3 linked regions of the Homo sapiens genome follow. The protein of the gene in region 1 interacts with the protein of each later gene in a biochemical or structural test. Each region holds a gene or a part of one and is shown in the gene's direction. Other genes may lie near its edges. The genes, in order: IPO13, PAX3 and NOSIP.

Evidence for each region.
Region 2: the proteins of IPO13 (region 1) and PAX3 form a complex in vitro, tested with the Homo sapiens proteins (one study listed by BioGRID).
Region 3: the proteins of IPO13 (region 1) and NOSIP form a complex in vitro, tested with the Homo sapiens proteins (one study listed by BioGRID).

The regions. Positions count from the first base shown.
Region 1 is NC_000001.11:43,956,943-43,964,047, forward strand, and holds part of IPO13 (importin-13), read left to right. Parts: coding exon 1-34; intron 35-252; coding exon 253-373; intron 374-459; coding exon 460-607; intron 608-1,034; coding exon 1,035-1,216; intron 1,217-1,299; coding exon 1,300-1,326; intron 1,327-1,518; coding exon 1,519-1,653; intron 1,654-1,803; coding exon 1,804-1,947; intron 1,948-3,306; coding exon 3,307-3,387; intron 3,388-3,933; coding exon 3,934-4,071; intron 4,072-4,223; coding exon 4,224-4,320; intron 4,321-7,105. UniProt on the Homo sapiens protein: Functions in nuclear protein import as nuclear transport receptor. Serves as receptor for nuclear localization signals (NLS) in cargo substrates.
Region 2 is NC_000002.12:222,288,927-222,296,031, reverse strand, and holds part of PAX3 (paired box protein Pax-3), read left to right. Parts: intron 1-374; coding exon 375-504; intron 505-1,730; coding exon 1,731-1,865; coding exon of another isoform or gene 1,866-1,927; exon of another isoform or gene 1,928-2,274; coding exon of another isoform or gene 2,275-2,309; exon of another isoform or gene 2,310-2,397; intron 2,398-7,105. UniProt on the Homo sapiens protein: Transcription factor that may regulate cell proliferation, migration and apoptosis. Involved in neural development and myogenesis. Transcriptional activator of MITF, acting synergistically with SOX10.
Region 3 is NC_000019.10:49,570,489-49,577,593, reverse strand, and holds part of NOSIP (nitric oxide synthase-interacting protein), read left to right. Parts: intron 1-716; exon of another isoform or gene 717-835; intron 836-2,609; exon of another isoform or gene 2,610-3,003; intron 3,004-7,105. UniProt on the Homo sapiens protein: E3 ubiquitin-protein ligase that is essential for proper development of the forebrain, the eye, and the face. Catalyzes monoubiquitination of serine/threonine-protein phosphatase 2A (PP2A) catalytic subunit PPP2CA/PPP2CB.

The DNA.
Region 1 (7,105 bases):
CCTCAGACGAGAAGGAGCAGTTCCGAATTTACAGGTGATGGTAGCAGGCCAACTCCTCTAAAATGGAGTCCAGAAATAATGAAGGCAATGAGGGAAGGGGCCCAAGTCCAGGCTTTCTGAATTTTGGTGCTCCTTTCTGTTTTCTAGGTATTGTTGCAGAGTTGTGGGGGTACTGGGGTAGGCTCCTGGGCTTGGGGGCAGGATCCAGGGTCAGGATCCAGGCAGTATAAAAGGCCTTCATCTGCTTCTCAGGGTGGACATCTCAGACACGCTCATGTATGTCTATGAGATGTTGGGGGCCGAGCTGCTCAGCAACCTCTATGACAAGCTGGGTCGTTTGCTCACCAGCTCAGAGGAGCCCTACTCCTGGCAGGTACCTCCCAAGCCTGATTCCCTCAGCCTTCCCAGACCTGTCACACCCTCCTCCTCATCCAAGCCAGTGGCACCCTCTTTCCCCAGCACACAGAGGCCCTCCTCTACGGCTTCCAATCCATCGCAGAGACCATTGACGTCAACTATTCTGATGTGGTGCCTGGGCTCATTGGCCTCATCCCACGGATCAGCATCAGCAACGTGCAGCTGGCAGACACTGTCATGTTCACCATTGGTGAGACCTGGCACACACCCATGACCATATTCCCAGAGCCACAGCACCCAACCCTGGCCACAGCCAGCATGCTGGATCCTATCCAGAATGGGAGAGCCACATGCCTACACACAATCAGTGTTGTAACAAACTGACTGTCCTGGCAGGTCTAGGGGGTCCATCTGATGGCACACTGAGCTGCAATTCAGTGAGGCTAGTTTACCGTCAGTGAAACAGCAGTACTGGGCCTCTGTTGAGTAACCCCTTCCTGCTTCTCAGCTGTAAGGCTCATGTTTGAGCATGCACATGCATATGTCCTCTGAATGGGGCAGTACTCTGTGCTGGGGCTGCAACTTGACCCTGCCAGGAACTCTGCTTGCCTCAGAGACATGGTACAAAGCCAGCCTGGCCTGCCTCAAAGATCCTCCTGTCTCCCTCCTTCCTCCAGGAGCTCTGTCTGAATGGCTGGCTGACCACCCCGTCATGATCAACAGTGTTCTGCCCTTGGTACTGCATGCCCTAGGCAATCCTGAGCTGTCTGTCTCTTCTGTGTCCACCCTCAAGAAGATCTGCCGAGAGTGCAAGTATGACCTGCCTCCCTATGCTGCCAACATTGTGGCTGTGTCCCAGGTATGCAGGGGCCCTGGATGGTGCTGGGCCTCAGAGCACACTCTGCACTGTGCTGATACTACATTCCTTCTTTCTCCCCTCAGGATGTGCTGATGAAACAGATCCACAAGGTGCGGCTCAAAAGTTTCTAGGGGTCTCCTTGGAGGTCTTGTGGGAATCACTTATCCCTGAAATCCTGTTTTTTGGCCTTCCCCTTCCTCTTATCCCTTATTCTCTGTTTTTCTTCTCCCAAGAGGCTCATTTTCCTTCCTACCCCACAACTAGATGTGGCCAGGACTGACCATCCATGTTCTGCCCCACAGACAAGCCAGTGCATGTGGCTGATGCAGGCGCTGGGCTTCCTGCTGTCAGCTCTTCAAGTGGAGGAGATCCTTAAGAACCTGCACTCGCTTATCTCACCCTATATCCAGCAACTGGAGAAGCTGGCAGAGGAGATAGTGAGTGAGCTCTGGGGGCCAGGGAGCGGTACTGAGATGCTGTGGCTGATGAGGGGTGAGGTTGGAGCTGGCCCTCAGAGCTGAGGCTCAGTGATCTGGGGACCAAACTGGGGCTGGGAGATCTGGAGCTTGGTTTGCTTCTCCCTGCAGCCCAATCCCTCCAACAAGCTGGCCATTGTTCACATCTTGGGGCTTCTCTCCAACCTCTTCACCACACTGGACATCAGTCATCATGAGGATGATCATGAAGGCCCTGAGCTTCGGAAGCTGCCAGTGCCACAGGGACCCAACCCCGTGGGTGACATTTGCCCACGGCAAAGACATTTGTCTTTGCCATCCCCCCAACCCCCACCTGTGGGAATGTCATTGTCACTCTTCAATTCTGTGGGTAATGTTGTCATTGTTCTCCCTGCCCCGTGGGCGTGATATATTTGGTCCTCTGACTCCATGAATGACCTATAATTGCCTCACTCTGTAGGCAGCAATGTCATTATCTCACTCAGCTCTGTGTGTGATGTTGTCCTTGTCCCCAGCCCAATTAGGGTGATGTCATTGAGATTCCTCAGCCCCATGAGGGACATTGACGTTATATCCTTCAACCCTTAAGTGATTTTATGGGCCCCTGTTCAACCCCTAGCTCTGTAGGGCCTTCTACTTCAACATTTACTGTCCCCTGTGGGCACTAAGGATGCTCATTACCTCCTCCGCATGTAATAGTTCTGGCCTTCAAGTTGCTCCCAGTGTAGAGGAAATTCAGGTTGCTCAAATTGTCACAAAGCAGTGTGATAAGTCCTGTGGTAAGCTTGGGCATAGGTTTTGGGGTGACCACTTACAAGCTGCTTGATCTGGGGCAAGCCTCAGCTTCCCATTAAAAACTATGAACATTGAAATGTCTGGCTTACTCAATTCATAGAACTGTGCTGGATAGTAGATGTGGTCTTAAGTGAAGGTAGTTTGCATATTGTAAAGTTCTTTACAAATATAAGGGACTGCTTTAGTCGTTGTTCCCAGAACTCCCTCCCAGATTTCTCCAGGAGAAAAGGAAGCCATAGGCATCCTGGCCTCTCTGCTTAACTCCCCAACCCAGTTTCAGTTAGCCTCTTGGCTTTAGACCACCCCTGGGCCACTGTCATCCCACAGAGCTGCTTCTTTACATGGTAGTCATCATCCTGCCTTTCCTCACCTCCCAGGACCTCAGTCTGCTCTCTGCTCCTCCATAAGCTGGGAGAGCAGCTTAAGCCTGCATCTGTGCATTCCTTGGGGCTCCCTACCTCAAGCCTATTTGGAGGAGATAGCATCTCCACTTCTTCAGAGGCTAGCCCATAGCCTTGGTTTTACAGAGCAGAGATAGGGAGAGATTTTTTTTTAAGTTTACAAAGTTTTTGTAACCTTATGAAGCACTTGTGATATCTCTGCTTTGCAGTTTGAGGCTTCCTTTGAGATGATCCCTAGAATTCAGGAAATACTCCTTTTTCATTCATGAGAGAGTTCAGCAAACCACTTCTTCCCCCAGGGGTCCCATGCCCTGGGTCCTCAATGTGTGTTCTGGGGTAATAGGTCTGAACTGCTCCCCTCCTCCCTGCCACCAAGTCCTCCTCAAGTGGGTCACAGTGATGGATAGCAGAAGCGCCTCACTTCTTCCTGTGCCTTCAGGTGGTGGTGGTGCTGCAGCAGGTCTTCCAGCTTATCCAGAAGGTGCTGAGCAAATGGTTGAATGATGCCCAGGTTGTGGAGGTGAGCCCTGACCCTTGCCCTCCGCTCCCATAGTGACTGCTCAGAGGTGTAGCAGGGTAAGATGTTACTGCCACACTTCAGCTTACAATGGTTTGGAGAAAACAAGGGAGGTGAATCCTGCCCCATAGAGATAAGGAATCTTTTGGGAAGACATTTAGAACTCCCCAATATCATGAGAAGTGCTTAACGTAAGGACTCTAATATTAGGGTCGAGTGACAGTCAGGCATCTGTTTTAGCACCAAAGACCTGCCTTTGGTCCCTTTTCAATTCAGGTTTTTGTTGCTGTTGCTGCTCCCTGAGAGGAAATGTTAGAGATGTAAGTCGCAGGAGTTAAGTTCCACAGTTACATCCTGTGCCCCTCAGTGAAGGGCCTTTGCCCCCTGCCTTTCAGGGTGAGGGTCAGACTTGCTTACCTTCCTTGGTTTGCAGGGCCAGGCAAGGCTTATAGGTAAGGGCCCAATCGTAGGCCCCCTCTGTGCAGGGCTTCAGCGCTGTTCCAGCCAGTCATGACCTGCTGACCAGGGCCCCTTTGCTTTCTTCCCAAGGCGGTGTGCGCTATCTTTGAGAAGTCTGTTAAGACGCTGCTGGATGACTTTGCCCCCATGGTGCCACAGCTGTGTGAGATGCTGGGTCGGATGTACAGCACCATCCCCCAGGCCTCTGCTCTTGACCTCACTCGACAGGTGGGCCTTCTGGTTGGGGCAGAGATCCTGACCCTGGGTGGGGGTGGGTCAGATGGCTGCCGTGGCTGGGGTCCCCACTTGCATTCCAGGGATATTGCCATGTCCTGGTGAGACTGGGTCTCAGCTGACCAGCATTCCCTGCTTTCTCGTAGCTGGTCCACATCTTTGCTCATGAGCCTGCCCACTTTCCCCCAATTGAGGCCCTCTTCCTGCTCGTCACCTCCGTCACACTCACTCTCTTCCAGCAAGGTAGGTCCTGACCGGGGTCTCTGCTGCTGCTGCCACTGCCACTGCCTCTGCTTCCCCAAATGGGGAGCCAAAGCTGCCCACTCTGTTCTTCTCTGTCCCCTGAGTCACACGTGGGACTTGATGGGAAACCTGTGAGATCAAGCACAACACCTTATAAATAGTTGAAACTTTAGGTTGAAGTGGATAAGAGGGTGAATGATGTCTTCTGCTGGCCTGCTGGGCTCAGGGCCAGTCTGGATATGGAAGAAGGAAGTGGGGGTGGGAGGTGGGCAGAGGCTCTGAGGGGCTTGGGGCACTAGGCTGGCTCCTTTACTTTGGGATATAATGAAAAGTGGAAAGAGCACGGGCTTTTGAAGTCAGCTAGACCTAGATTCTAAGTTCATCACCACCAACTAGTTGTGTGTCCTTGGGCAAGTCACTTACCTTTGCTGGGCCTTCATTTCCATATCTGTGAAACGGAGATAACATATACTTGAAATGATTGTTTACAGGTATTAAAGTCACATCTTCTGGGCCCTTGGCTCAGGGGCTTTTGCACAGTGAAGTACTCAGAGACTGTTGGTTCCTTTCCCTGCATCAAGGCTTAGTACTTTCTAGGCCAGAAGTCAAGTACCTTTGGCTGTGGTCCTAGCCCTCTACTCACTGTGGCCCTTTGCCTGAGAGAGTTGGCAGCAGGGGCTTCATTCAGGCTTCTCGTGTTGTCTAATCCAGGCTTCCAGTTTGGAGAAACAAAAACAAAAAAACAGCACTGCTCAGCTAGCCTCATGAGCCTTGCCTGGATTCATGGTCACAGGTTTGAGGCTCACCAGGGGTCTCGGTTGGTGCCCAGAGTACTCGCAGCTCATATCCTCAGTGCCTGGTCTCATGATCCTGGCCTCTGTTTCTGTGGGCCATGGAGTAGGTCCAAACTGGGGAGAAAACTGAACCAGAAACCTGGTGTGGTCATCCTCAACTCCACCTCTCCCAACTCCCTGTACCCAATCTGGGACAAGCCCCATTGATCCTGACTCCTGATTCTCTCTCGGTTGGTCCACTTCTACCCACCTCCGTGGCCACTGCCTCAGTTTAGGGTCTCACCTGGATTATCAGCAACCTTCTAGTGGGTTTTCTTGGCATCTCCCCTTCTCTCCAATCTGTTCTGCACACTGCAGCTATAATCTTCATAAAAACACAAATCTGAGCATTTGTCATCCCGGGCTTAAAACCCTTTCATTGTTCCCATTGCCCTCAGCTTATTGTTCCATTCCCACCCACATGACAAGGCTCTGGCATGCCTCTAATGTCCTCTCCTGCCAATGTCCTCATGACTCCAACATTTCAGCCACACTGCCTCTTCCTTACCGTGTCCCATTTGATCCCTGTGCCTTGCTCCTCTGACTGGAATGTCCTATGCCCTTTACTGGGTGAACTCTCACTCCTTCATGCCTTAGAAAGGAGGAAGACTGCATCACTTCTCAGAGTAATTTCTCTCTGAGGCAGAATTGGGTGCTTCTAACTGTACTGAAACTGCATCCCATACACACTGCTGACACAGCACTGATCACACACAATAATCAGCTTTCATGTCTGTCTCTCTTACTAGACTTAAGCCCCTCAAGGGTAGGGTTGAGTTTCTTCTCTCTGCATCCCCAGTGCCCAGAATGAGGCCAGAATACAGCAGGCCACAGACACTGTTAAATAAAGGAGGGGGAGGGCTCCCTGCCCTTGGAACCTTTCCTTCTCATTTTCTGGCCCACCTCTAGCAGGGTGGCTGCTGAATATCAAACCTGCATGGTGCACACTGGGCCTCACTTTCTAGGACTTAAATAACTCAGGGTTCAGATACCAAAGGGACAGACTTTATTGGTGACTCTTCATAGCCTAGAGAAGGAAGCAGGGCAGAGATTATCTGCTTTACAGATGGGGAAACTGAGCATTTGTGGCTTGCGCAAGATCACACAGCTACTTAGTGGTGTCTTAGGCAGATGGTTTTGTACCACATCCTCCTGAGAGTGGAGAAGCCTGGGTAGGAGCTCCAGGTGCATGCCATATTCTTGCCTCAGGAATGATCAGAACTGGAGGCAGCAGTGTCCAACATCATATACGTTGGGCTTGTTGGTTGTCTCGCTGGACAGGATGGCTCCCATACCTGTTATGCCATCCCAATCTTAGCCATTCCTTCCTCGGGCTCTGCCTTCCCACTGGACCATAGGATGACATGTTTCTTGTTTCCCTGTTTCTTGGCATGTCCAGATGATGGGAACTAGTCCTCAGCCCTGAGCTTGGCTCTCTGCAGAGTCCATGTCCATGTGGAGGAGGTTTGCTGGGGTGGGGCTCTTGTTTTTGGCCTTATGATACTGTTTCCTCCTCTGGGCCCTGCCAGTGACTTGCCAGGCCATCTCCAGAGCATGCTGGGCACTGCCCTACCTAAGCAAGAGTCCTGTGGTTTAAGTGGACTGAATAGATTATTTTCCTTTGCCAGACCAAGAGCCCTAAGGCCATTGAAGTGAGGTGGCACTTACTCAGGCTCTGATGCCCTGGCCTTTCTAGGGCCCTCAGATAAACCTCAAAAGGAGATACCAAGGACTGACTCCCCCACCCCCCCACCGCCATCCCAGCTTTCCTCTTCAATGACTGGCTGATGGGAGGTATGTGCTAGGAGCAGTGTAGGGCTACCCCAACCTGCCAGAGGCCACAGTAAGTGTGGTGGCCGTTTCTTCAGCTATATGGAGTCCAGAATTGCTCAAGTACCAAGGGAACATGAGGGGATGGCCTGAGGAGGAGTGGGGAGTAGGCGGAAGGCCCC
Region 2 (7,105 bases), on another chromosome or scaffold:
TTTTCAAACATCGCTTTTTTAGTTTCGTTTTCATGTTGGTTCTGTGTAAGCAGTTGCCTTATTTCCAGGGATGAGAAAGTATAACCCCACCCTACCCCCATCAAGATGTTATAATTCTTCTGAATTTATCCCGGTTGTCTGGGGCTTGTCTGGGGAAGTTAGAGGCTTCCCAGGCTGCTCCGGGATGGGATGGGATGTGTTCTGGTCTGCCCCTTTCTAAAGTGCCTCAGAGAGTTCAGGTCTTTTTGCTCACAAAGGGGGACCGTCCCAGAGGATTCAGCGAGGAGCATCCCGACAGGCCCAGAGGCGGTGGGGCCGCCGCCACCTGGCCCAGGGTACCGGGTACCAACGCCTGCCCGCCTGTTCTCTTAAAGCAGGTGACAACGCCTGACGTGGAGAAGAAAATTGAGGAATACAAAAGAGAGAACCCGGGCATGTTCAGCTGGGAAATCCGAGACAAATTACTCAAGGACGCGGTCTGTGATCGAAACACCGTGCCGTCAGGTACTAGGCCCATTAACCTCTCCCCGAGGCGCGACAGTCAGTCGCTATTACCCCGGCACGTCGACCCAGACGTAATCACCCCAATTATCGATCTCAGCTATTGGGAGGTGGCCTCTCCCGAGGCCCTGCAATATTTGCCAACCCGGTGTTCTTGGCACTTTATGGAGGGAGGGGTGAGCTGCTTGTCCTGGGGACGGAGGGTGGCGAGACCACCGCTGAGGACGCCCCAAAGAAGATTTCTGTCGAGGAGGCAGGGCAGGAAACGTGAGGCGGAGGCAGAGCGTTTATTAATATTGATGTTCCCTTTTAAAGAGAAACAAATGTTTTGGTAACCCCAACCGAAGGGAGATGGGGCCCGCGCCGGGAGGGACTTTGCCGTGTGCGCAAAGCCGTGGAGGCTTCCACAACGGCCCCGATTTCCTCCGAGAGTCTCAGGGACGGTCCGGAGCCCCCCGCCACGGCAGCCTGGGGGAGGCGGAGGGAGAAGAGGGGCAAGCACGGGGCCAGCGAGAGGGCGCACGGGAGGGTTTGTTTTTAATTAAAAGGAAACTCCCTTTTTCCCTCTGTGAGAAACATATTTCAGAGCATGGATTTGTTTACCAGACTGGAATCTGGAAAAAATAAGTGGGAGAGAGTGCATTTTCTTTTGATTTTTACAATAGGAAACGATTCTGCAGTTGAAATTTAAACCCTTTATAGCCTTAAAAAAAAAAAAAAAAGGGAAGAAAGGAAAAAAAAGAAACTTGATTTACGGGGGGGTGGGGGGGGGCGCGGACAAGTCGGCTTTGGTTCTTCCTCCCTTAAGGCGAACCGCAGGATCCATGCATTCAGGTGGGGAGGAAGGAGGGTACCCGGTGGGCTGGTGGGAGAATTCTCTTAGATTGCAGACCTAGAGCCCGGTCTTCGGAGTCCAGGAAGGGAAATGCTTCCTGCCCAGAATCGAGGGACAAAGATGGCATCCGGCCCTAACTTGGAGGCACGGTTTTCCCAGCCTCCGTCTTTCAGTACCGAGATACAGATAATAGGGAGGGGGGTTTGAGTGGCAGGATGAGAGGGCTGGAGAAGGATGAGGATGTCCAGAGATGCAGGAGGAGACACCCGCGAGCAGTGCAGGGCAGCGGCTCTAGGGCCCTGGCTGGTGTTTGGGGGTGGGGGGTCCTTCCCGCACAGCCCTGCTTGTCTCAACCATGTGCGCTCCCTTGCTTCCTTCCTCCTCCCGCCCCCAGTGAGTTCCATCAGCCGCATCCTGAGAAGTAAATTCGGGAAAGGTGAAGAGGAGGAGGCCGACTTGGAGAGGAAGGAGGCAGAGGAAAGCGAGAAGAAGGCCAAACACAGCATCGACGGCATCCTGAGCGAGCGAGGTAAGCGGTGGCGCCTTGGGCGGCGCACTTGCTGGGTGACTTGGAGGGCATCGGCTAGCTGACATTGGTGATCTGACGGCAGCCAAGCCCAGCTCGGATCAAGGTCCCTTCATGCGCGGTGTCTCTGCGCCTGAGTAACGACATGGAACTGAAAGACCAGAGGGACACTAGGAATCAAAACAAACATTTCTATTCTGCTTAGTTTTTCTGTTTTGTAAATCTTTCTTTCTTAACCACTTTCAGCCCCTGGGATTCTAGAACTGTGAATTGTGCTCTGTTGTAGGGGGCAGGGGAAGCTCTCACTCTGTTGCCATTAAATGTATGAGACTGGGCATCTCTGAGCAATTGTAGGGCCGGGGATAGAGGGTACTTGAATCTTCAGAAGTTGAAGTAGCTTTTATGCCCTCAGGAAAGGCCCTGGTCTCCGGAGTTTCCTCGCATTAAAGGAGAGAGAGAGAGAGTACTCTTTTGGGCAACGGCCCTCCAAAATTGCCCCCACATTGGCTGCCTTATAAATATGTCTGTGTGTTGACTGGTTTGATTTGTTTGAAGTTGATTTTCAAATGTGAGGGGGTTTAACCTGTGTGTGCCTGGGAATTGAAAGGAACCCAAGCTCTGGGTTACAAATTGAAGGGATCTGGGTTCTTAGAGTGCTGGCACCCTCTGTCTTCTAGGGGTACAGATCCCCATTCCTTTTCGGCTGTGCACTGTCGGCACTAAGAAAAAAAATCTCCCCCATGGGAGACAGAAGTGCAGCTTGCTTCCCCTTCACCTGCCGCAAGCCATCCTCAAACTTTAAGGGTACAAACGCAAAAAGAAAGAAAGAAAGGAAAAGAAATGCTGAACCAGGAAAGGATCATTGCAGCAGGAGACGGCAGGGGGGAGGGGAGGATTGTGTCTCAGTGGCTTTGGCCTTGGGGGTGGTTGCCCCTCTTCAAATGCACAAATGGTCAAGAGTGGCCAGGGGTCCCACTCATGCCTGAAGTTTCCTCACCTGGGACTTGGAGTTCATTGGGCAAAGTTAGTTTTGGAGTTGCCAGAGGGACAGGCGGCTTTCCAGGTGGGCTCACAGCCGTTGCCGACTGTGACTAGCTGGGTCCGAGCCCTTACCAGAGTGGCATCCAAGTGGGACTTCTTTTATCTTCATTGCCCAACTCTGTGGCAGCCAGTGGCTCTCCTGAGCAGCTGCTTTACAAAGCAATGCAAAATCTGCACACAACCTGGAAGGAACATTTAGATTTGGAAGTTACAGATCCAAATGGCTGATTTGAGGGAAAAACAAGTGTAGATACTCTGATGCACACAAGAAATCAAAGACATGTCAAACCACAGCAGGTTGGGCAGGGAGATGCTTCCTTTGCTTTATGACAGAGGCCTCCTATGGACTCAGCCTAAATCCTCTTTTTGGAGAGGTGCATTTTTCTGCCTTGGTCTCTGAGAAGACACCTTGGCTTTTATCCCAGGCCTAGCTGCAGAATAGAGGTGCTGAGAAGGGAGGAAGGCAGGGAGTCAGACAACCCCAAACCAAATGTGCTCCTGTGGGCAGTGGGGAGAAGAGCCCAGAGCAGTCACAGAGGCTGGGGACTCACGGCTTTGCTACTTGTTGCTGGAGGCTCCGGCGCTGGCAGACTGGCTGCTCTCTCGCAGTACAGGCGACTGAGGCCCAGGAGACAAAACGTCCCAAATGAGCTGGTCAAACATTTGTACAACTTTTCCAGCTTTTACAAAGAAGTCCTTCTCTACACAATCTACACTTGGAGATGAACTTGGGAGACAAAGCCTGGAGAGTCCATTGAAACTCACACTTTAGCTCAGCCCAGACAAAGCTCCAGCTCGGAGCAGCTTGATGTGAACAAAGGAAGGCAACCTTTTTATAATTCAAGGAGAAAAGAAGAGAAAACAGCACCACAAAAGGCTGAGAATAGACATTATGGGCTTGCAATGAGGGATGAATTATTCAATGAGCCCCAATAGCTGCTGCGCCGGGAAGTTTTATGGACTCTTCAGCGTGGAAAAAGTGGCCATTTCACCTACAAAATGTTTCTAGTCTTTTGGGCTGTCTAGCTGGGCCGGCTGCTATTCAAGGGCAATTGCTACATTTTTAAAATCAGAGTATTCTCCCCAGTGGGGGCTGTGCTGTTGGAAACACACACACACACACACACACACACACACACACACACACACACACACACACCTTGGAGGCTGAAGCCTGATTTAATTTGGGGTTGTCAAGGAAGATGCAGTGTCTGTCTCTTCAGCATCTCTAGCTCCTTTTTAGATGAGCCTCGGAGGACAAGAGGGGCCCAGAGAAAGGACAGAGTGAGGTGCAGTTTGAAGTCTAGAAACTTCAAAAACTCCTTTCTGTTGTTCGGGCATCAAAAATCCCAGGCTGCCCGCTTGTAAAATAGAATGAATGTTGATAAAGCGTTCTTAGCGCCCTGGCAGAGGGGGAGAAGAAAGCTGAGGGAGGAGGAACTTTGGGGTCCCCTGACCAGTGTGGTGTATTCTTGCCCTTTTCCAGTTAGTGGGTCTGGTGGGTGCTGCTGAGCCTGGCTTTTCAGGGGAATCTTTGGCCTGAGGTCTGCTTGGCAGACACTAGGACAAAAGGGTTGAGCCACTTTGAATGAGGTCAGAATCACCTCATTCTTCTCTCCAGTGGCTTTCTCCCAGATGGTCCTCTTAACTTTCCCAACTTTCCCTTTTCCCTCGCTCAATTCAAGAGCTGAGCCGCTAGCGGTGCTGGTGCGCTCAGGCCCGCGCTCCCTAACGGGCGCGCGCTAAGCATGATGCACCCTTGCTGGATACATCCCTCCAGCTCCATAGCCCAGGAGAAAGGAGAGGGCTGGGCGGTTCACTAACACGAACCCCGCCCGCTATCCCCAATCCCCCTAGCCCCTGGCCCGCGCTGAGACTGGAGCAGAGGCAGCCGGGGGAGCCAAGTCCTGGCCGAGGCATCCGGGGCTGTGGGCACCGCCCTGCGCAGCGGCCGCTCAATGGGCGCCTCTGTTCCTCCCCCGGCTCGGCCTAGCGGGCCCGCGGGCGCCGCCACAATGGGCTGGGCCCCCACTCCTGTGCTCTGCGCCAAAGCGCCGCGCCGCTCCGCCCCCTCCCCTACTCTCTGGCCGGCTCGAAGCTTAGCTCGCCGGGCTGCAGCCGACTCAATTGCCTCCTTTATGTCCTTCTCACTTTCATCTAGACACAGCCCGCCTCCCCCCTTCTTCTCCTCTTTTTTTTTTTCCTCCCTTGCCTGAGGCTCACATTAGTGAAATTTCTGCAACCTCCCCCCATTTTTTTCTTATTTTAAAGAAAGCCCTTAACACAAAAGCGGTGACTAATCAATAGAAACTGCCCCTTCATCATCTCCTCCTCCTCCTCCACCCCTCCTTCTCCCCCTCCAGCAGGGTGACGCTTTTCCTGTTTGTGAGTTTTGGGAAACATTTTTGCTTTGTGCAGTAATGGAATTAGAGGACAGTTGAGGACTGTAAATGGACACGCGACTGCAAGACTCTCGCTTAAATATTTAGATGCAAAGTTACAATTACTGACTTGTTGTAGCAGCTTTGAAGTGGCAGCTCCGGAGCGCAGGGGGAGAGAGGCCAGATTGCCAAATTGATGTTTTGATTGGGGACTGGCGATACACTCTCATAAGACTTTCCTCCCTTTTAAAATCACAAGTGAGCGTGGGAGGTTTGCAACAATTTAAAAGATCCCACTAAGAGATCTCAAGCATAGGTCTGTTGGGGGCTTATATTCCTTTCCTATCTGTTCCCTCTTATTTGACGTTTACAAAAAAGAGTGCTTTCTTAAAAAATTGGAGAAAGTAAAAGTGACGAAAGCTTTGCTCAAGTTTCCATTTTATTTGTAAGCTTGTCAGCTTTTGTAAAGTTAACGAGGACGACTTCAGCTTTTTGGGGGGGAGGTAGGAGAAGATTAATCAGTTTAAAACGCAGAAAAGCATTAAAGGTATTTGGAGTATTTTATTTCCAGTGAAATCATGAAAAGAGCACTCTTATCATTAAGGGACTGCTGAAATCAAGGAAAACGAAGGGCCGTTTCTTTCCCGGTTAGTGAGCAGGAAGGGCCATTTTGGTCCAAGGTTGGGAGGAGGGGAAGGCGGGGGACGAACTTTCCCATAGATTAAAATCATTGGGTATAAGATCATAGGTTTATGGCATCGGATCCTTTATTCAAGTGGACAGACCAGCCCACTTTCCAAGTCCATTTGTTAGGATCACGAATTTGACTTCAATGTCGTTTCGATTCTATAGAGAAAACTTCATATTTTCTGAAGTCCTTGCAAAACTCAGCAAAGAAATATCATCCATTTAAAAAATATTGGAAGTATCAGAACTTGAATTCTATTAGAACACCACGCCGTGTTCTATTTATTAATGTCGCGGTAACAATTTTCCTGCTGGAACGATTTGAAAGGAAACACCAGAGTTCAGCTCCTAGCTTTTTCTTTTTCGCTTGTTTGGTTTGGTTGACTGCTGTGTGCTTACCTTCTAGAGCTTTATTGAAAACATGCAGATTTTCTAATTAATGCTTGAAATCGTATGTTTATTTTGGGGTTTGATTTGATTGTTGATAGCACCGGAACCAGGACGTAGGGGCTTCTACTGAGTAATAATTACTGAAGGGTCATTTAAAAGTCCCCAGGGCTGAGCAATAAAACCCACCCGGGCGGTGAGGCGGAACCAGTCAGCGCGCGGCGGTTCAGGCGAGTGGAATATGCAGAAATCGATCACGTGAATAGGAGTGTGGCCGCTAAATCCGAATGGCTTCAGCATCCATGAATGCATATATTTTGAGAACAACAACAAAAAATTCTTCCTATGAGACTAAATGTTTAAGTTGTACATAAGTAGATGGCCAATGAAAATGAAAAGCTGCAACAGTAACAACAAACAAACGGTGAGAAATGAGAGTTTGGCTTGGGCTGGAACAGAAAATGTTTTACGTTCGATTGGATTCTGTATGACAGGTAACTTATCTATGAGGGTAAATAAAGATTAAAGAACCATTTAGAATGTACATATATAACTAACAAGACACTAAAAGGCAATTAAGCAGTCAGTTTAATGTCTTATCTCACTGGCTGCTCTGGGGTTGTTTTACAAGTAGGAATTAAAATCTGAAAAGGAAGTTTTCAGCAGCTCTGGCCAAATATTGATTAAGTAGCTGTTTGTTGATACCATTGTTACACATTAAAAGGCCGGGAGCGCGGCCCCTCAGTG
Region 3 (7,105 bases), on another chromosome or scaffold:
TGGATAATATTCCTTTACCCAAGATATACTTCTTTTCTTTTTTTTTCTTTTTTTGAGACAGAGTCTTGCTCTGTCACCCAGGCTGGAGTGCAGTGGCGTGATCTCGGCTCCCAGGTTTGAGCGACTCTCCTGCCTCAGCCTCCCGACTAGCTGGGGCTACAGGCATGCGCTACCACGCCTAGCTAATTTTTGTATTTTTAGTAGAGATGGGGTTTCGCCATGTTGGCCAGGATGGTCTCGATTTCTTGACCTCATGATCCGCCCGCTTTGGCCTCCCAAAGTGCTGGGATTACAGGCATGAGCCACCGCGCCCCGCCTGCATGGATGTATGTTTTTATTTCTATTGGCAGTGGAATTGCTGGGTCAAAAGGTGACTATTTAACCTTTTGAGAAACTGTGACTTTTCCAGAATGGCTGTACCATTTTACATTTCTACCACCAATGTATAAGGGTTCCAGTTTCTCCATATCCACACCAGCACTTATTATTTATCTTTTTGATTATAGTCATTCTAGGGGGTGTGAACTGGTGTCTTTTAACATGCTTATTGGCCATTTGTAGATCTTTGAAGAACTGTCTATTCCAATCCTTTACCCATTTTCAAATTGTGTTAGGTGTCCTTTCATTATTGAGTTGTAAGTTTTTAATATATTCTCACTGCAATTCCCTTATCAGATATCCTGATTTTTTTTTTTTTTTTTTTTTTTTTGAGACAGAGTTTCACTCTTGTTGCCTAGGCTGGAGTGCAATGGTGCGATCTTGGCTCATCACGACCTTCGCCTCCCAGGTTCAAGTGATTGTCCCATTTCAGCCTCCCGAGTAGCTGGGATTACAGGTATGCACCACCACGCCCAGCTAATTTTGTATTTTTAGTAGAGATGGGGTTTCTCCATGTTGGTCAGGCTGGTCTCGAATTCCCAACCTCAGGTGATCCGCCCACCTCGGCCTCCCAAAGTGCTGGGATTACAGGTGTGAGCCACCTCACCTGGCATTTTTTTTTTTTTCCCCAGAGACAAGGTCTCACTCTGTCACTCAGTCTGGAGTGCAGTGGTGCAGTGGCACGATCATAACTCACTGCAGCCTCAACCTCCTGGGATCAAGTGATCCTCCTGCCTCAGCCTCCCAAGTAGCTGGGACCACAGGCGCATGCCACTATGCCCGGCTAATTTTTTAAATTTTGTTTTGTGGAGATGGAGTCTTGCTATGTTGCCCATAGCAAGTTCAAGTCTGGTCTCAAAAACCATGCTGCTGCTGCTTTTTTTTGGTAGAGACAGGGTTTTGGCATGTTGCTCAGGCTGGTCTTGAACTCGTGAGTTCAAGTGATCCTCCTGCCTTTGCCTCCCAAAGCACCCTATCCAGGTATGAGCCACAACAGCCAGGAGATATCTGACTTTTGTAACTGCTACCTGTTTTTGTTCAGCCTGCAAACTAAAAATGGTTTTTAACATTTTTTTTTTATAAGATGGAGTCTCGCTCTGTCGCTCAGGCTGGAGTGCAGTGGCGTGATCTCCGCTCACTGCAAGCTCCACCTCCCGGGTTCATGCCATTCTCCTGCCTCAGCTTCCGGAGTAGCTGGGACTACAGGCGCCCGCCACCACGCCCGGCTAATTTTGTTTTTGTATTATTAGTAGAGACGGGGTTTCACCGTGTTAGTCAGGATGGTCTCAATCTCCTGACCTCACGATCTGCCCGCCTTGGCCTCCCAAAGTGCTGGGATTACAGGCGTGAGCCACTGCGCCTGGCCTGGTTTTTAACGTTTTTACATAACTGGAAAAAACCAAAAGAATGAATTTGGTGACCTATGACAATTATATGTGATTCCGTGTCAGAGTCTAAAAGTAAAGTTTTATTGGAACACAGCCATGCCCGTTTGTGTGTCTGTGGCTGCTTTTATGCTACAGGGGCTGAGTGGAGTACTTACAGGGGCTGTTTGGCCTGCAAAGTTCAAAACATTTACTCTCTGGCCCTTTTTTGTTATTCCCTGCTATATCCTCTGACTTCCTAGAATCAGGAAATTGAATGTAAAGACTTGATTAAATTTCCATTCAGCTGTCAGGTGATTACTTCAGAGCTGGTCGCTTCATGTTGCATACTGCCTGGGTGCCCCATTTTCAGGGGTAGTGAAATTCATTCAGGCTCAGGCAGCATTATAGACTGAATGTCCCCCCCAGATTCGTATATTGAAGCCCTAATTCCCCAAGGTGATTATATTTGGAGGTAGGGCCTTTGTGGAGATAATTAAGGTGAAAGAGTGGGGCCCTAATCTGATGGATTGGTGTCCTTATAATAGGAGGAGGCTGCGCATGGTGGCTCATGCCTATAATCCCAGCACTGTGGGAGGCCAAGGCAGGTGGATCACATGAGATCAGGAGTTCAAGACCAGCCTGGCCAACATGGTGAAACTCTGTCTCTACTAAAAATACAAAAATGAGGCCGGGCGCAGTGGCTCACGCCTGTAATCCCAGCACTTTGGGAGGCCGAGGTGGGCAGATCACGAAGTCAGGAGATAGAGACCATCCTGGCTAACGTGGTGAAACCCCCTCTCTACTAAAAATACAAAAAAATTAGCCGGGCATGGTGGCGGGCGCCTGTAGTCCCAGCTACTCGGGAGGCTGAGGCAGGAGAATGGCATGAACCCTGGAGGCAGAGCTTGCAGTGAGCCGAGATCACGCCACTGCACTCCAGCCTGGGTGACAGAGCGAAACTCCGTCTCAAAAAAAAAAAAAAAAAATTAGCCAGGCATGGTGGTGGACGCCTGTAATCCCAGCTACTTAGGAGGCTGAAGCAGGAGATTCACTTGGGCCTGGGAGGCGAGATCCGCCGCTGCACTCCAACCTAGGTGACAAAGTGAGACTCCTCCCAAAAAACAGAAGGAGACACCAGAGAGCTTTCTCTCTGCCACTGAAGATAGCCATCTGCAAACCAGGAAGAGGGTGTCACCAGAACCCCACAATGCTGGTAGCCTGAACTTAGACTTCCAGCCTCAGGAACTGGAGAAAATAGGTCTGTTGTTTAAGCCACCCAGAGTGGTGTTTTGTTATGGCAGCTGGAGCAGACTGAGACAGGTGGCAGCCATCGAAAACCGCATTGTAAAGCTACAACTGTGTATTTTCCAGTAGCAAGAATTAGCATCCTGTGACTATCCAGGCCCCATCAGCCTCTCCTTTAATGCCATCCATCAACAATCATTGCCTGAGTCAGCTATTTCACCAGAGGTTGCAAAATGGCAGTTTTCCTATTCTCCCATTTCTCTTACACTTAGTCTGAATAATTTGGTTTTTGTCTTGAGTCATGTCCAAGAAGCAGTTGAAGAGAGTGACTTAATCAAACTTCCATTCTGAAAAGCCCCCCTGAGGCTGGTTTGTCAAGGAATAGACTGAGGAAGAGGCCAATTTCTCCAAGCTTCAATTTTCCTACCTATTAAATGAGCAAGACTGGGCGCGGTAGCTCATGCCTGTAATCCCAGCACTTTGGGAGGCCGAGGTAGTAGATCACCTGAGGTCAGGAGTTCAAGACCCAGCCTGGCCAACATGGTGAAACCCCGTCTCTACTAAAAATACAAAAAAAGTATCTAGGCATGGTGGTGTGTGCTTGTAATCCCAGCTACTTGGGAGGCTGAGGCAGGAGAATCACTTGAACCTGGGAGGTGGAGGTTGCAGTGAGTCAAGATCGTGCCACTGCACTCCAGTCCGGGTGACAGAGTGAGACTCCGTCTCCAAAAAAAAAAAAAAAAAAATACTTCAGTCCTGGTGACAGTGAGACTGTCTCCAAAATAAATACATACATACATACATACATACATAAAATAAAATAAATGGGCAGAACGTGGGGAGGTTGTCATGAGGACCGAATGTGTTCACATGTGGAAAGTGCTTCCCACAAGGTCTGATTCTTAAGGGGTTGAAGGATGTGATGATTACTTCTGTTCTTCCAGTGCTTCTGTGATTCACATGTTACTAATGAATTATTAGTGTATTAATGGCATGATGTCATGGCTGCATGGTTAGTTCATTGCTAACCCACCTCCCCTGGCCCTAGGATTGGAGGTGGTTCATTGATTCTATCATGACATCTCTGAGACCTCCCAGGTGCCAGGCAATGCTGGGACCCAGGCTGAAGTTCAACCCAGGCCCCACCAACCAGGGCCCCTACTCTGGAGCCGAAATACCGAGGGACGGGCTGTAACGGAGGTAGCTCAGGGCACGGTCAAGTGCAAGGAGAACCTAACTGATCCCGGAGAGGCAGGCTTCTTGGAGGAGGCAAACCTTGGCAGTGCTCTGGAGGAGAAAGGAGACAGGATTTCAGGGGAGGACAAGACACACACTAGCTGTCTGATCCACTCCCAGAGTTCAGCACAGTGCCTGAGGCCGCCTGCAGCCAGCTGGCACAGTGGATGGTCAAAGCCACAGGTGCTTGGATCAAACACAGCTGTAGGACTCACTAGCTGCATAACCTAGGGCACCGCCTCTGTGCCTCTCTTCATTTATAGCAACTATTTGAGGTGCTGTGATATTCAGTGGAGTGTTGTGATATTCGACCGTTTGAGGTGTTATGATATTCAGTAAAATGCTTAGAGCCAGGGTCTGCTTCAGAGCCGGGCTTTTTTTTTTTTTTTTTTTTTGAGACACAGTCTTGATCTGTTGGCCAGGCTGGAGTGCAGTGGCCCGATCTTGGCTCACTGCAACCTCTGCCCCCAGGTTCAAGCGATTCTCCTGCCTCAGCCTCCCGAGTAGCTGGGACTACAGGCACCTGCCACCACACCCAGCCAATTTTTGCATTTTTAGTAGAGACAGGGTTTCGCCACATTGGCCAGGCTGGTCTTGAACTCCTGACCTCAGGTGATCTGCCCGCCTTGGGCTCCCAAAGTGCTGGGATTACAGGCGTGAGCCACTGCTCCCAGCCATATATATATATATATTTTAAAGTATCTCCAATGAAAATTTAGCATCTGATGGCCAGGCCAATGTGGTGAAACCCCATCTGTGCTAAAAATACAAATATAAAAATACAAAAATGAGCTGGGCATGGTGGCACACGCCTGGAATTCCAGTTACTTGGGAGGCTGAGGCAGGAGAATGGCTTGAGCCCTGGAGGTGGAGGTTGCAGTGAGCCAAGATTGCACTATTTTGCACTCCAGACTGGGCAACAGAGCGAGACTCTGTCTCAAAAAAAAAAAAAAAAAAAAAAGGCTGGGTGCAGTGACTCATGCTTGTAATCCTAGCACTTTGGGAGGCTGAGGCGGGTGGATCACCTGAGGTCAGGAGTTCGAGACCAGCCTGCCCAACATGGCGAAACCCCATCTCTACTAAAAATACAAAAAATTAGCCAGGCATGGTGGCGGGTGCCTGTAATCCCAGCTACCTGGAAGGCTGAGGCAGGAGAATCACTTGAATCGGGGAGGTGAAGGTTGCAGTGAGCCGAGATCACACCACTGCACTCCACCCTAGGTGATAAAAGCGAAACTCCATCTCAAAAAAAAAAGAAAAAAAAAAGAAAATTTAGCATCTGAATTACTGAAATTACTGAGATGTGCTGAAAGAGTAAAATACATTCTGGATTTCAAAGGCTACAAATAAAGGAATGGATTGGCTTTTTTTTTTTTTTTTTTTTGAGACAGAGTCTCACTCTGTCGCCAGGCTGAAGTGCAGTGGTGCGATCTGGGCTCACTGCAACCTCCACCTCCTGGGTTCAAGCGATTCTTCTGCCTCAGCCTCCCGAGCAGCTGGGACCACAGGCGCGCACCAACACACCCAGCTAATTTTTGTATTTTTAGTAGAGATGGGGTTTCACCATGTTGGCCTGGATGGTCTCAACATCTTGACCTTGTGATCCACCCGTCTCAGCCTCCCAGAGTGCTGGCATTACAGGTTTAAGCCACCGTGGCCAGCCTGATTGGCCTTTTTTCTGAGATTGTGACTTTCCTAGGAAAACTGACAGTTGTCACCTAGTTAAAAGGAATGGCTCCAGAGCCTGGCTGCCTGGGTCTGAGTCCCAGCTCTGCCATTTCCCAGCTGGGACATGCTGTGAGCCTGTTTCCTGTGCTGTGAGGTAGGGATTATGCTGACATCGGTCGCTCCTGCTCTTTGCCTGTTTCCTCTCTGAAATGCTGGTGACAGCAGATGGCAGCAGTCTGCTTTGTAGTTTGAAATTGGACCTACCAAAGAGACAATATAGTGTGGGGCAGGAGAGCTCAGCTTTCAGAGTTTGTAAATCCTGAAACTGGCTATTCTTCCACCCTTGGTTGGAGGCGCTCACGCTTTCTGGTCTCAGGATCTTAAAAATCACTGAGTTTTAAAAATCAAAGAGTTTGCCGGGTGCAGTGGTTCATGCCCGTAATCCTTGCACTTTGGGAGGCTGAGGTGGGCGGATCACTTGAGATCAGGAGTTCAGAACTAGCCTGGCCAACATGGTGAAACCCTGTCTCTACTAAAAAATACAAAAAAAAAAAAAAAAAAATTAGCTGGGCGTGGGCGCCTGTTATCTCAGCTACTTGGGAGTCTGAGGCAGGAGAATTGCTTGAACCCAGGAGGTGGAGGTTGCAGTGAGCCGAGATCACACCACTGCACTCCAGCTTCGGCAACAGAGCAAGACTCCATCTCAAAAAAAACAAATTAAATTAAAAAAAGTTTAAATGCTCCCTCTATAGGTGTTCCTCCTATTTTTGGAGGGAAAATGTCCCCATCTATGTAGAAACCTCAGTTCTTGGCCACAAAACAGCAAGCAAGCTCATCTCTGGGAAAGCCGAGGTGCCCAGAGCCAAATACTGCAGAGGGTCAAGGGAGTTGACAACTAAGAATAGAGTGGGGAATGTGTCCATGAAAAGGTCACCGTGACCTTCATGAGTGGCAGTTGTGGGGGCTGGGGAGCGGATGGCAGGTGAGGGGAGGCAACAGGTGTTGGACGTTCACTGAGAAGCTTGGGGGTCAGGGGGAAGTCGGAGGAGGAGCCTGGCATGTGGAGGGGACCCTGGGTCAAGTTGGGGTGTTTGATCAAGGTCGCCCTTCTGCAAGCAGCCCTGGCTGCCTCAGGGGGCACATTGATCGGGAAGGGGCGTGAGGGGGTATTTAGCGTGATAGGAAGGTTCTGTATCTCCATAGGGTCGTGG